Regions from separate parts of the Homo sapiens genome. Here regions 1 and 2 are each linked to region 3. Evidence: fine-mapped expression QTL. A gene starts in region 3. Each other region holds a variant in brackets. All regions are shown on one strand. Distances are from middle to middle. Region 1 has its middle 27 kb from the start of COCH. Region 2 has its middle 100 kb from the start of COCH. Region 3 holds the start of COCH (cochlin).

The links. PIP is the estimated chance that this variant, and not a neighbour inherited with it, causes the effect.
Region 1: its variant is fine-mapped to the expression of COCH in whole blood (TOPMed, PIP above 0.99).
Region 2: its variant is fine-mapped to the expression of COCH in thyroid (GTEx, PIP above 0.99). The same link has a PIP of 0.9 or more in adrenal gland.

The regions. Positions count from the first base shown.
Region 1 is chr14:30,844,496-30,849,722 of GRCh38, forward strand. No RefSeq gene overlaps it. Among named protein-coding and RNA genes, the nearest start is that of COCH, 27 kb to the right of the region's middle. The variant T/C (reference allele first, on the strand shown) is at 3,054.
Region 2 is chr14:30,767,758-30,772,984 of GRCh38, forward strand. No RefSeq gene overlaps it. Among named protein-coding and RNA genes, the nearest start is that of COCH, 100 kb to the right of the region's middle. The variant AC/A (reference allele first, on the strand shown) is at 2,324.
Region 3 is chr14:30,872,451-30,877,677 of GRCh38, forward strand. COCH (cochlin) reads left to right here and starts at 2,109. Exons shown (of 12, transcript NM_004086.3): 1 at 2,109-2,141; 2 at 2,466-2,522; 3 at 2,606-2,653; 4 at 5,122-5,227. The coding sequence starts at 2,489. COCH-AS1 (COCH antisense RNA 1) reads right to left here. Exons shown (of 5, transcript NR_038356.1): 5 at 3,729-4,102. RefSeq lists a silencer at 1,671-2,190.

The DNA.
Region 1 (5,227 bases), 28 kb before region 3:
TGGCTAAATAGCACTCCATGTGTATATGTACCACATTTTCCTTATTAATTCATCTGTTGATGGATACCTAGATTGCTTCCAAATCTTGGCTACTGTGAATAGTGCTGCAATAAACATGGGTGTGTGGATCTCTTCAATATACTGATTTCCTTTATTTTAGATAGAACCTAACAGTGGGATTGCTGGATCATATGGTACCTCTATTTTTGGTTTTTTGAGGAACTTCCAAACTGTTCTCCATAGTGGTTGTACTAATTTACTTTCCCACCAACAGTGCACGAGGATTCTGTTTTCTCCACCTCCTCGCCAACATTTGTTATCGTTAGTCTTTTGGAAAAAGCCATTTTAACTGGGGTGAGATGATATCTCATTGTAGCTTTGATTTGCATTTCTCTGATGATTAATGATGTTGAGCACACTTTCATGTGCCTGTTTGCCATTTGTATGTCTTCTTTTGAAAAATGTCTGTTCACATCTTTTGCTTATTTTTAAATCAGATTATTATAATAGATATTTTTCCTGCACAGTCGTGTGAGCTCCTTATATGTCCTGGTTATTAATCCCTTGTCAGGTGGATAGTTTGCAAATATTTTCTCCCATTCTGTGGGTTATCTTTTCAATTTGCTGATTGTTTCCTCTGCTGTGCAGAAGCTTTTTAACTTGGTGTGATCCCATGTGTCCATTTTTGCTTTGCTTGCCTGTGCTTGTGGGGTATTACTCAAGAAATCTTTGCCAGTCCAATGTCCTGGAGAGTTTTGTCAACGTTTCCTTTTAGTAGTTTCATAATTTGAGATCTTAGATTAAAGTGAAAATGGATTAAAATAAATCCATTAAAGTTGAAAAGGCTTTAATCCATCTTGATTTGATCTTTGTATATGGTGAGAGAAAGGAGTCTAGTTTTATTCTCCTGCATATGGATATCCAGTTTTCCCAGCACCCTTTATTGAAGAGTGTCCTTTCCCCAATGTATGTTTCTGGTATCTTCATCAATAAGAGTTCACTGTAGATGTATGGTTTACTTTCTGGGTTCTCTATTCTGTTCCATTGGTCTACGTGTCTGTTTTTATGCTAGTACCATGCTATTTTGGTTACTATAGCACTGTAGTATAACTTGAAGTCAGGGAATGGGATTCCTCCAGTTTTGTTCTTTTTGCTCAGGATAGTTTTGGCTACCTTGGGTCTAAGCTGGGTCTTTTGTGGTTCCATATAAATTTTAGAATTATTTTCCTACCTCTGTGAAGAATGTCATTGGTATTTTGATAGAGATTGCATTGAATCTGTAGATTGCCTTGTGTACTATGGACATTTTTTAAAGTATTGATTCTTCCAATCCATGAACATTAAATATATTTCCATTTTTTCAGTGTTCTCTTCAATTTCTTTCATCAATGTTTTATAGCTTTCATTGTAAAGATCTTTCACTTCTTTTAAGTTAATTTCCAGGTAATTTTATTTGTTGCTATTGTAAATTAGATTACTTTTTTATTTTTTTCAGATTGTTTTCTGTTGTCATATAAATGATACTGGTTTTTTTTATGTTGATTTTGTATCCTGCAACTTTACTCAATGTATCAGTTCTAATAGTTTTTGGTGGAGTCTTTAGGTTTTTCCTAATATAAGATCATATCATCTTCAAACAAAGATAATTTGACTTCTTCCTTTCCTATTTGGATGCCTTTTATATCGTTCTCTGGTCTGATTGCTCTAGCTAGGATTTCTAGTACTACGTTGAATAACAGTGGTGAAGGTGGGCAGCCTTGTCATGTTACAGATCTTAGAGGAAAGGCTTTTAGTTTTTCCCCATTCAGTGTGATACCAGCTGTGACTCTGTCATATATGATGTTTATTACATTGAGGTATATTTCTAGCCCCAGTATTTTTTTAAGGGTTTTATCATGAATGGATGTTGAATTTTATCAAATGCTTTTTCAGCATCAGTTGAAATGATCATGTGGTTTTTGTCCTTCATTTTGTTGATATGATGGATCACATTGATTTGACTATATCGAACCATCCTTACACCCTGGGATGCATCACACTTGTTGATGATAAATGATCTTTTTAATGTGTTGTCAAATTCTGTTTGCTAGCATTTTGTTGAGGATTTTTGCATCAATGTTCATAAGAGATACTGGTCTGCAGTTTTCTTTTTTTGTTGTGTCTTTGTCTGGTTTCGGTACTGGGTAACACTGACCTTGAAGAATGAGTTTGAAAGTATTCCCTCCTTCTTTGTTTTTTGGAATAGTTTGAGTAGGACTGGTATTAGTTTTTCTTTACATGTTTGGTAGAATTCAGCAGTGAATTCATCAGGTCCTGGACTTTTCTTTACGGCGAGATTTTTTATTGCGGCTTTAATCTCATCGCTTGTTATTGGTCTGCTCAGGTTTTGAATTTCTCTATAGTTGAATCTTAGTAGGCTGTATGTGCCTAGGAGTTTATCAATTTCTTCTAGGTTTTTCAATTTTTGGCACATAGTTGCTCAAAATAACCTGTAATGATCTTTCGAATTGCTGTGGTATCAGTTGTAATGTCTCCTTTTTCATCTGTTTATTTATTTGGGTCTTCTCTCTTCTTTGCTTAATTAGTCTGGCTAAAGGTTTGTCACTTTTATCTTTTCAAAAAACCAACTTTTGGTTTCATTAATCTTTTTCAAATTGCATTTTATCTGGCTGATATTTCCAAAAATGCATGGCTTATGCTTAGCATGATTTCCTAGTTTCAGTGTCAATGCAGTTTTGTCCTAATTACTTCTCTTTGGCCATTTTGTTCCATTACAAGCTTGTTTTTATGCCATCCCCTTTCCATTGAAGAAAAATATATATCACATACCCAAATATGTACACACATGTATACACATGTATATATAATTCTTGATATAATCAAAAGAATATATGTAATGTATATGTAAGTTTTAAGTAAAATAAGACAAAGAACAACACTCTGTATCCTTGACAATATAAGAAACAGAACACTGCAAAAAATTGTAACTATATACTTGCCCTCCCCTTATGGTGGAAGGTGCCCTCTTCATATAGGGAGAAGTACACAGAATA[T/C]ACCTGGCAGTGTTTCCTGATTTTAATGCTAGTAAATTTTATTCCCTTTTTTTTTTACTTATCTTTAGCCATTTCATTGAAATTTTGTATTAGAGACCTTTGGGTGTTCATTATCAACTGATAGATTCAGTCTGTGTATGTGTTAATGAGAAAGAGTGACTGTAATAACCCATTTTCATACTGACGTTGCCTGGATTTGGTATCAAGGTAGCAGTGACCTCATAGAATGAGTTTTCTATCCTCTCAAAGAATTATTACATTTGGAATAATATGCTCCTTAGAAATTTGGTAGAACTACCTGTAAAACATCCAAGACATAGAGTTTTCTTAGTGGGAAAACATCACTGATAGTTTGATTTTTTTTAAATAGTCTTAGGACAATTCAGGCTTTCTATTTATTTTTTCTAAATTTTTATTTATTTGTTTTAATTGAGAAATAAAAATTGTATATATTTATCATGTACAGCATGCTTTGAAATAGGTACACATTGTGGAATAGCTAAATCGAGCTAATTAATATATATATTACCTCACATACATATCATTGCTTTGTGATGAGAACACTTCAAATCTATACTTAGCAATTTTCAAGAATATAATGCATTGTTATTAACTATAGTCTGCATATTTTACAACAGCTCTCCTTTTTTTTCAAAACAGGTTTTTCCTAGGATCTATGGAATAGATTAGTTCTGGAAAATTTAAAGCCCATATCTCTTTAAATATTGCCTACAATTTTCTCTCTAGTCTCACTTTTTGGGACTCGGTTAAATATATATTAGATTTCCTCACATATCTACTTTTTTATGTTTTCCAATTCCTTTTCTGCCTTTCCTGGAGTGATTATGGCTGTATTAAATCTGCTGTCAAACCCATTCATTGAGTCCTTAAATTTTTAACAATTGTATTTTACATTTTCAGAAATTCCCTTTTATTTCCAAGTCTACCTATTTATTCCTGCTGGTTTTTTTGTTACTTACTTATCTTTTTGATTGTGTCCATTATTTCTTTAAGTTTTTTTTTTTCTTAGAGACAGAGTCTCACTCTGTTGCCCAGACTAGAGTGCAGTGGTGAGATCATAGCTCGCTGCAATCTCCAACTCCTGGGCTCAAGAGAGCCTCTTGCTTCAGCCTCCCAGGTAGGTAGGGCAACAGGCGTGCCCCACCATACCTGGCTACTTTTTTCTTATTTTTTGTAGAGATGGGGCTCTCAATATGTTATCTAGTGTGGTCTCAAATTCCCAGCCTCCAGCGATCCTCTTGCCTCCATCTCCAAAAGAGATTACAGGCATGATCCACCACACCCTCCCCTTTAAATATTTTTAACATAGCTTCCCTATATTGTGCAACTGACAACTCTAATAACTGAAGTCTATGGGGAAGGGTCTAAATCTGTTTTTTTTTTTTCTATTGATCTCACTCAGCTTGGCTTGCATTGCAATGTGCATGGTGAACTTTGATTGTGAAATGATTGCTTAATCTGCAAACTAAATTGTTGAAGATTTCCCCCAGAGACAATTTGTTTTTTGCTTCTTCTTTTACCAGCAGCAAAAGGCAGTACTACCCTGGGATGACATCAGCCCCTTGGCACAGTCGAAGCTCACATTGGATGTTCCAAGCTCAGTTTTCTTACCTGGCCACCAATATCTTGGTAGCAGCATGACTATTGACATCTACTCTCAGGGAAAGCTCATCTCACACTTTCATTGCCCACGGCTCTGCTGGTTGTTGTATTTGCTGGGAGAGGGTCCTTGGAGATCTTACTACCTCTTATGAGACCAGACGTGCCTGAGAGACTGTCCTAAAGAGCCACACTGACAGAAGCAGAAATCTGTGGTGGTTTGTTCTGTGTTGACTCGGTCAAACTGAAATCATGTTTCCCAAAATCTTCTCCCTTCTATGGCTGTGGGCTTAATTGGCCAAGAGGATCTTGTGTGAGATTTAGAAGACAGAAGTGAAACAATAGCCATTATGTTCTGAAAGTCTGTCATCAGACACAGTGACAGAAATATGCAAAGGTGCCCAGCAGGCTCCAGCTGGTCTTTGGTCTCCTGTGTTCTAGAACAGTTCCTCTGTATAGCTCTTCTTCCCAACCACTGACCTTGTTGGCCAACAGCAGCCCATACCTACAACCAGACACACAGCTGGTGGCCAAACAGCTTCCTGCAGACCTTC
Region 2 (5,227 bases), 100 kb before region 3:
CATCTCCAGAAATGGATCTTGCTTGAGGTCCTTGCTTCTTCATGTCACTATTCAGTCTGGAGTGGAGACATCTGATTGGCAGAGCCTAGGTCACGTGCCCATTCCTGAACTGCGAGGAAGACTGGAAAGAGGGTACATCACACTTTCAGCACCTACAGCAGAGGCCGACTTGCATCATAAGGTGGGGAACTCCTCTAACACAGAAAGCAAGTTCTCCACCATCTCTCCAGCATCATTCTTTGCTGGCCAGCCAAGATAAGTGCAAAATGTTCACTATACCTCCCATATCATGACCCTGATTAAGAATTTTAGATGACAGTTCAATGCTTGAAGGACAAAATCTGAATTCTTTTCTTGGCATACAAAGCCTGACCCTAATCTGTGTTTCTTTTTTTTTTTTTTTTTTTTTTTTTTTTTTTTTTTTTTGAGACGGAGTCTCCCTGTCGCCCAGGCTGGAGTGCAGTGGCGCAATCTCGGCTCACTGCAAGCTCTGCCTCCCAGGTTCACACCATTCTCCTGCCTCAGCCTCCTGAGTAGCTGGGACTACAGGCACCCGCCACCACGCCCGGCTAATTTTTTGTATTTTTAGTAGAGACGGGGTTTCATCATGTTAGCCAGGATGGTCTAGATCTCCTGACCTCGTGATCCGCCCGCCTCGGCCTCCCAAAGTGCTGGGATTACAGGCGTGAGCCACCACACCCAGCTGCCTAATCTGTCTTTCTAACCTCAATGCCTACCTCTCACTCCACCATCTGGTTGGCTGGCCTCACTCAGGAGCTGTTGCTGCCCCTCGCAAGCCCTTTATTTGCATGGCTCTGGGGCTCTGCTATGCTTGAAATATCCTCCTCTTCTGTCTTCATCAGGGAAGCTCCTACTCATTTGTCAAAGCCCACTTCAGGGAAGCCTGCCCAAATCTATGGGCCACATCAACCAGGCCCTCTCCACACTCTGCTCTGTTATAGCATTTAGTAGGTACTAAATTAATAAATGGTTGGTGGGTGAGAATTATCCTTCTCCAAAATCAAAGCAGCAGCTCTTAAAAGCAAGAAGTACTTTAAAATTTAAATAAATACAATTTAAAACTCTACTTTTACAGTCAAAAGAAGTAATGTTTTTGATATTTTCCAGAAATTCTGAACAAACAGATGAACTTTGGCCCAATATCCTTATTTTTCACTGTGTCCTGAAGGTTATCTCTGAGCAAATGAGTAAAGATAAGACGTATCTGACAATTTTCATTAAGCCAAGAAACACAGAGAAATGAAACACACTCAGATCCCAAAGGGGCCCAAGACCAGGTCCAATCTAAGCCTAAGTGGAAATGGGAGCATGGTATGCAGCTGAAATTTGATGTGAAATGCTTCTCAGTGACAACTAGTAAAATCAGCAATTACATTGGAGTTCCTAAATTACTCCCTGCAAAACAAACAAATGAAATATAGCTAGTGGGTACAGCTGATCTGAAACTCAAATAACTGCCTCGTTTTTATTTCTGTCCCCATTGAATGACACAGCCAATGGCACAAGACATGAAGAAGAGGAGTTCCGGGGAAAAGCATGCTGGGGATGACCCCCACCAGAATCCCTGGTGGTGCGGTGGACAGATCCCACTGTCTCCCACATTTCACATCCCCAAATGGTGCCACTGGTACTTATACTAGGTGAGAATTCACTGATCAACTCCGTGTGACCTGGACTTCAAGTCTGCCTTGTATTCCTGTGTTTGGACATTCTTCCCTCTACAAAGGTCCCTTCACATTAATTTATTCTTCTTTCCTTGTTTAAGATGGCAGGGTGCCCTTTGCTTTCTTTCATCTTTGCTTTTCTCTCTACAGTAGCCTCTGAGCATATAAGGTTTTTGAATTCCTTATTTGTGGATTTTTAAATTTTCGGTTTCATTTTTCAGGTTTCTTGAAGGCTGTGTGAAGCCCTCCACTCTCCCCACACATATTACATGTTGCCCTCTTTCTAGAGGGGCTCCAGTAATGCTAATTTCACCTGACAGGCAACAAGTGGAAGCTGATGGCCAGAAGGTCACAAGAAAAAAAAACTGGAGAAATTGTATTCAGCCAGGTCAAAAAAAAAGTCATGGTGGTCATCCGGAGAGGCCAGAGGCACCAGTCAGGAGCTGGAGTCACTGCTGCAAGGACCCCACCACCTCCTCCCACCCAACAAAGGAGCTCCATGGCTGCCATGCTAGATCACCCCTGACCGTTCACCTCACAGGGCCTGAGAACAGCTCTCAGGGACAAGAGAAATGATCTAAGGTACCCAGTTCCCAACAACCATTCCTAAGAACTTGCAGAGCAGAATGTTAAAAACA[AC/A]CTTTTTTTTTTCTACAAGGGAGAAAGGCTAAAGTCATTAGCAAAGGAAAATCTCAAGAGATATCATTGCTTTCCCAAACAACCTCTCTAGGCTTGGGAACACATACCGTACCCATTTTGTACCCAGAGAGAGAGAGAGAAAAAAAAAAAACTTTTTATAACCTTACAAAAAAGTTACATAAACAACACTATCCTCTTTGTTGCTTTCTTTTTTTAAAAGGGGTTGTTTTGAAAATAGATAATTTTACTGATTCCGGAGCCAAGAATTGTTGCTCTGTCTTAAGGAACTGTTGGATGCCCTTTTTGGCAGGATTGTTTGTTTGTCTAAGATTATGCATGTTTGCTGGGGACATAAAAATGAGCTCAGGATTGGAGATGGCTGCACCTGAGTGGCGGGGCTTGTTGGAGCCGATGCATGGCCTGGCTCCCAAGGAGCTCCTGCCTGCTCACTCACAATTCCCTCAAATCAAACCTCTCCCTATCCAGGATACAAAGATGAGTGGGGAGGGCGGGGGCGAGGGGAGAGGTTAACAATGTCTTTACAGTCATACTCATCAAGTAAGTGTCACAAAGAAAAGGAACATAAATCCTGAAGTATGGGGAGGCAGGAAGGCAAGAGGAAAGAGAAGATGAGAGAAAAGGTAAACCATCGGGTAAAACTCAGCAAGATAGAGCTGGTTGTTTTGAGGCGACTATTTCCTGTAAGTGGACATACCACAGAAAGAAATGGAGAAAGCTCCAAGAGCACGGTGGTTTGAAACGGGTACACGCAACAGGAACCTGGTTAGTTCCACTTCTACATTCCTGACTCAATCTCAACAGAGATGTTTCCGATTATCCCAAAGGAAATGGTTAGAGAATCAATGCAGCACCGAAGTATGGTTACAATTATGCAAAATAATAGGATACAACCTAGTGGGAAGGTCTTCAACAGTGCATGAAGCTTATGCTTTGATGCAAATCTGCTTGAAATATAAGGATAGAAACTTCTTCAAATGTATGCTCCTTGGTATAAAAACACAAAAGCTCTGAGACAGTTAAACTTCCTTCAAATAAGAATGCATCCCACGGATGTTCTTTGTGAGACAGATATCTACAAAAAATTCTCCTACTAAAATCACAAGCCTCTGCAGTTTTTTTCTCTTGAATTATGGCCACTCAGAATAGTAATTTTGATATTAAATGCTCCTCCCTAATAAAAGGACAAAAAGCAAAATCTTTGAGGAGTTATATGTAGTGTTTAATACCATTTGTTTTCAAACCTGTGTTTTCAATGTTCAATTCTTCTATGCAATACCACCTCAAAACTAACCAAGTTCTTTCCTTAAATATTGAAACATCCCCAGGGTAGAGACTTGTTCTCTGCTCTGATCCCACTGCCAAGCACAGATCCAAGCTCATAGTGGTGCCCAACAAATATTAGCTGAATTATCATTAATTCATACTTTGTGTATGAACAAACATACACAAAGTTACAACCACTTTCTGGGCAATGCCTTTCCTACAAATATTCTTCAGAGTAATTTTCTGAGCGGAGGGGAATGTTCTTAAATTGGCACATCAGGATTTAGAAAATGAGCTGAAGCTCTGCACTTGTTGATTTACAAAAACACGTCGATTTTATTAGTTTTGAGCTGAAAATCAGCTTGGGAACATGAGAGGAGGCAGAAACGTGGGCTTGTTGATTCTTTAGAGACCTGCCAGTCAGCAACTCCTGTACCTCAACACAAGTGCATTCTTTGCTATTTTTCTTGGAAAACCTTGACAGTGTGCAGTGAGGGTGTCTTATCAGCTTCCAGGTAGAGGCAATGTGCCCAGCCACTTCAAACAGGGAAGCGGGGCAGGGGAAGGGACACCAGAGAAATGGAACCCAGGATGTGCCTGCTGAGGCTAGGGGCTTTGCAGATACAATATCCGACTATTTCCATGTCACCTGACTTCCCACTGTCTCCTTTGATTTTTAAAAGACTTAGTAGCACATATAACGGAGGGTTTTGTTTACCTTTAAGTATGAAATAACAGAAAAACAAACAAACGAATAGGCTGCACTACCTCTTCTCACTCTATCAAACCTGTGTTGACTCTTTGTGATCACATTGATTGAAACAAGAAAGAAGAAAAAAAAAAGATCATCCTATAGTCTAAAACAGACATACCTTCTATGTTTAAAAGGCTGTTTTCTACTGCTCTGAGATCATCCAACTCTCTCCCTTTCTTCTCTAGTGTTCAAGATTAATGTTCTCTTCCTTTGTCCCTTCCACATGCCGTGCTGGAAGAAATAAGGACCAAAACAAATACAAAAGGGTAGGGAAGAGTCTTGTTTTGTGACTTTTGTTTTGGTCCTTATGTCTTCCCACATTGCTGCTGAGGCTCTGGGATTTCCCCGAGGACTGCTCTTCTGCACATATTGTTTTTCTGACACCTTTTAAGTGGCTGTGCCCTTTCACACCTAGAGAAAACTGTTCCTGTATCCCTTCAAAATCTACGATAATCTCTACAACCTTCTGAAAACAAACAACAATGTATTCTTTGATATGTCAATAGGGTTCAATTTAGCAGTGATTCACATATGGTACTGCATTTTGAACTGGTGACTTCCATTTGTGAGCTACTGCTGAATACTCATCTCTTGAATTCTCAAACATAATTTGCTGTTTTCTGTGCTGTTGAGAGGCATAACCCTCTTTCCATCTAAGTCTTCAGCACAGACTGGAGGTCATCCTCCTTTCCTCTCTAAAATCCCAGGAAAAGCTCTCCTGGACTTTGGCTTCTCAATATCAGTGGTTGAGAAACATGCTGTAGCTTCAAACTACAAAATAGTTGGGGTGATCTTAGCTATATAACAGGCAGAGGAAAATGGCAAGGAATGCCAAGACTATGAAAGTTTTCAACACAATTTGCAG
Region 3 (5,227 bases):
GGTGAGCATGAACTACAAACTAGCTAAGAATGAGAGTCTAAACCCCACTCTTCCACTCTCCTTGGTTGGCCTTACCAAAAAGAAAAAAATAGTAAAGACAGAGTAACTTCTCTTAAATGTTTCAAAACAAAATAATTAAGATGAATCTCAGTAAACAACCATGAAATTCAGTGAGGTATTTCCTTTATTTTTTAATGGTTACAGACTCAGGGTCTGTCATGGAAATAGCTGCATAGTTTTGACTCTGCCAAATCACTCACTGAAATTACATCACAGGAGGGCTGCCAGTGCCCTGTGGGGGCTCTGAATAGCATCTACCCCTTTGGCCATTTGGGACCTGCCTGCTGAGCTGTGAAGTGGCAGGTTTTTTCCAGCGTACAGACTCTTCCTAATTATATAGCATCATGACAATTTGTCCAGCCTAATTAGGGGAGGTTATCCAACCCTGATTGAGGACACTCAATAAACAATAATGGAAAAGACAGCTTTAATTGTCCTGAGGCTTGAAATTTCTCCCATGGAAAATATCAGGGGCAGTGGCTAGATTACTGGATTTCTAAGAAAAGGGTAATTCTCTATACCAGGGAAGGGAGTAAATCTTGAAAGCAGCCATGAAAATAAACATCAAAAACCTCCCAGCCCTCAAATGTTATTTGGTCTCTTTCCCTCCAGAAGACATTCAGGTAGTAAAGGGAATGAAATCAACACTCCTTAGTTGCCTGATACAAATACTAAGTCATTCCAATCAGGAAGATAGTTGTAATTAAGACTACTACACTAGTTGACTTCCAGGTGATGGTGGTGTATTTGTTTCTCAGTATAAAATGGCATGGGAATACTTTTCAACAATAAAAAGAAAGGAAGTACTGTTCTATAATGCCTCATGGATGAACCTCAAAAACATTCTGTGCAGTGAAGGAAGCCGCACAATGTATAATCCCATCTATAAGAAACGACCACTAAGAAAAATCTATAGAGACAGGAAATAGGTTAGTGATTGCCTAGGACTAGGAGTGGGAGAAGAGACTGACTGACAATGGCGAGGAGATCATTTTGGGGAGGATGAACCTGTTCTGAAATTGGCTTGTGGTGATGGTTGTACAGCTCTGAAAATTTACTAAACATCATTGAACTGTACACTCAAAACGGATGGATTTTATGGCATGTAAATTGTAACTAAATAAGGCTATTTGAAAAAGTTTATATTGTACCAGAAAGGTTAGCGTCTGGGCCTGGGTCTGGTTCTTCCGCTGCCATGCAGGTCGCCTGTCACTAACACTCCTCAAGAATTCTGCTCCTTCTCCATTTCCATTTGTAAAACGTTAGCAGGATGGTGCGGGGAGAAGGAGAACACATTATCAAATCTGAGATTCTGTGCAGTCACAAGACACCAAGTCTGGGAATTTCGAAAGGCAATCAGGCATAAATTCTTCCTGAGGTGAGAAAGAAGCAAAGGTACCGGCTGCTGGGGTCAGGGCTGTCTCACACGCGTGGCTCTAGGCAGGAGCACAAATTGAACCACTGGGGAAAGTAGGACTCCAGCAGAAACGAAGGCGCAAGGCCGAATCCCTAAGGTCCAACGAGCTAGCAGTCAGTTGACAGGGTTTCTAACAAAAACGCGGCATGCGTTTACCAAACCTAGGGTGGTTTTATTTCAGAAGTAGGAACTCTTTCCACGAGAGCACCAAGTTGAGAAGTTCGGTTCTCAGGCCGCGTGGACCTGACAGCTCTCAGAAGCTCCAGGCCTCGCTGGGTGGGGCGGGTAGCGGCCGCCGCTGCCTCAGCAGCCCTGGTCCCGGCAGAGCAGGGCTGGCGAGGCCGCTGCTGCCGCCGTCGGGGCCGCCGGCCCTCCACACTCGTTGAGACGCCGGCACGGGGACCTTCGTGCCCCTCTAGGGACTGGCGCCGCGTCCAGGTGGCCGAGCCTGCGCTGCTGGAGGAGGCGCCTCCGCGCCGGCCTCACCCCGGGGCCGGCAGGGGGCGAAGGCGGAGCTGGAAGTCGCCGCCGGGCCCCGGGGGACCGGCTCCCGCGCTTCCTCCCGCGCCCCCCGCACAGTGCTCATGCGCACGGCCCAGCCTTTATAGCGGCCGCGGGGGCCTTGCCTTCCGCACTCGGGCGCAGCCGGGTGGATCTCGAGCAGGTGCGGAGCCCCGGGCGGCGGGCGCGGGTGCGAGGGATCCCTGACGCCTCTGTCCCTGTTTCTTTGTCGCTCCCAGCCTGTCTGTCGTCGTTTTGGCGCCCCCGCCTCCCCGCGGTGCGGGGTTGCACACCGATCCTGGGCTTCGCTCGATTTGCCGCCGAGGCGCCTCCCAGACCTAGAGGGGCGCTGGCCTGGAGCAGCGGGTCGTCTGTGTCCTCTCTCCTCTGCGCCGCGCCCGGGGATCCGAAGGGTGCGGGGCTCTGAGGAGGTGACGCGCGGGGCCTCCCGCACCCTGGCCTTGCCCGCATTCTCCCTCTCTCCCAGGTGTGAGCAGCCTATCAGTCACCATGTCCGCAGCCTGGATCCCGGCTCTCGGCCTCGGTGGGTGCGCGCCCCTCACGACCCCGGCCCCTTGCTCCGCTGGGTGGAGGCTGGAGCCAGCCCTCACGCTTCTCTCTTCGCAGGTGTGTGTCTGCTGCTGCTGCCGGGGCCCGCGGGCAGCGAGGGAGCCGGTGAGTGGGGGAGCTGGGGTGCGTCCAGGCGGTCGCAGGGGCTGAGCACCAGCGGGTACAAGCGGGACTCAGATCCAGCCCCTTGGGCTTCAGCCCTACCGCCTGAGGAGGAAGGCGCGAAGGTTGAGCCGCCGCGTGGCGCGCCCGCGTTAACCCCTGCAGCCGATCTGCTCCTGCTCACCTGTTTCTCCCATGGTAGGGGGCCCCTGGGGTCCAGTGGGGGGACGTTCTCCAAGAGCACTAGGAAGAAGGCCTCCTCCAGGCCCACCCACAGCCCCAGACCCCGGGCCCGCTGAGCGCCGGCAGCAGGAGGTCGAGGAAGGAGGACTCCTTGAGCCTCACCGAGGAGCGCACCAGTCCTGGGCTCTGCTGCGTTTGGGGGTGGAGGAGAAGCCGCCCAGACCCGACTTCAGGTTGCCGTAGCCGAGAGAGAGGGAGGCGAACGTCGCTGTCCCACCTTGTTTGACTCGCTAGCTATGTTTCTAGGTGTAACCCCTATAATCAGAAGCACTCGCGGTCTCACTCTACACGCTAGAGAGTTTAAAAAGTTTGTACCACGTGTAGAGGTCCGGGTATGGGTGTGTGGTTTGGTGTATTTTCCAGTGTAAAAGGCAACGCTTTCCTAAGAGCTACCGTTTGTTTTCCTTGAAAGTAGGAATGAGGGTTAAGTATCCCTCATGGCTGTATTTCTCCCGCTCTACTTAACAAAAGTCAGTGTTCGCAACTAAAGGCGGTCGGTCTTGGCACCGGATTCCGATGCCGCCCCCATCTCAGCGGAAAATGGGAGGAAGGATTAAGGCTGTTTGATGATAGGTATGAGGCTGTTTAGGGGTAAGGATTTTAACCTCTCAGCTCTCTAGACTGCTTCAGAGCTAAGAAATGGGCATTGCGCCTGCATCCTTCCTTCTCTTCCATGGAATGTAAGGTACCTGTCACCACAAAGGGCACAGAGGAGGGTGCTTGTCACAGGCAAGGTACTCAGTTGGACAGTATGGCCAGAAAGTATTCCTCTGCCTTGGAAAAAAAAGGTTTTTAAAATTAATATATGTTTTAAAAAGGTTTGGATAACTACAACTTCCCATGTTTGAAAAATAGCATTTAATAACATTAATCTCAATTTAGTATCGACAGTAAATTCACAAATTAACATGTTGTATTATGTTATCTTGTTACTTGTTGCCAAGAGCTTGTCTCTTCCTAGCATCATTTATAGTAAAAACTGATTCTTTGTTAGGTTGACAGTGTAAAACTTGAGAATATTAACAGTGCTTTCTAAAAATGCATCCGCTGCTTGATAAATCTCACTGGACAGATCTGGAGCAGAAATAATCAGGTTCAATTAAGATAAAAATGCTGTATTCTGAAGGGATTCACTTTTCTGTTTTCTGTCCTTCGGGAGTTGTAGAATGTTGTTTGGGCAAATTAACCCCACGGCTTTAATTTTCTCATCTATAAAATGAACAATCAAGTTAGATAACTTTCTGTGAATCTAAGCATCTTTTTGTTGGCTTCCTTAATGTGTGAGTTTAAGGATCTGCATTTGTAGGCTAACTAGGATAAATGGTCCTATGAAGGAAAGGATGGCTTTGATTTGTGCACATGTCTATGAAAATGTTCCACAAAGGCTCAATCCAGATTTACTATCTTTACCTCAAGCAACTGTGTACATAGCGTCATCAAAGTTGAGATTTAAAAATTTTTTTTTTTCTTCTGGAGACAAGATCTTATTCTGTAACCCAGGATGGAGTGCAGTGATGCAATCATAGCTCATTGCAAGCTTGAACTCCCGGGCTCAAGCAATCCTCCCACCTCAGCCTCTCCAGTGGCGGAGAGTACAGGCATGCACCACCACGTGTGGCCATTTAAAAAAAATTTTTTTTTTTTAGAAGAGATGAGGTCTTGCTATGTTGTCCAGACTGGTCTTGACCTCCTGGACTCAAGCAAATCCTCTTGTCTTGGCCTGCTAAAGTGCTGGGATTATAGGCATGAGTCACCACGCCCAGCCAAGATTTTTTATATTTCTATAATTAATATTAAATGACTTTTATTTTCTAGTTCAGATATAGTTCCAATTATGTATTTCCAACCTGGTTAAGAACTGAGAAGCCAGGCACAGTGGCACACCTGTAATCCCAGCTACTAGGGAGTTGGAGGTGGATCACTTGAGCTCGGGAATTTGAGCCTAGCTTGGGCAACTTGGCGAGTCCCCATTTCAAAAACAAAAACGAAATAAAAACCCAGAACTTTCACATTAGAGTTTTATAGTGGCTGGGGACTATATTAAATTGGAAAACAACCTTGTGGCTTGCCAAAATCTGGAATGGTATGGAAGGGTATATAAGTCAATAGTCATAACTAGAAGTGTAGAAATTAGGGAAGTAAAACTTAAATCTCACACTGTAGTCTCCCCACCACTATGCCCCAAGAAGTCCTAAGAATGCTTACAATATTATCTCCTTTTTCTTCAGCTCCCATTGCTATCACATGTTTTACCAGAGGCTTGGACATCAGGAAAGAGAAAGCAGATGTCCTCTGCCCAGGGGGCTGCCCTCTTGAGGAATTCTCTGTGTATGG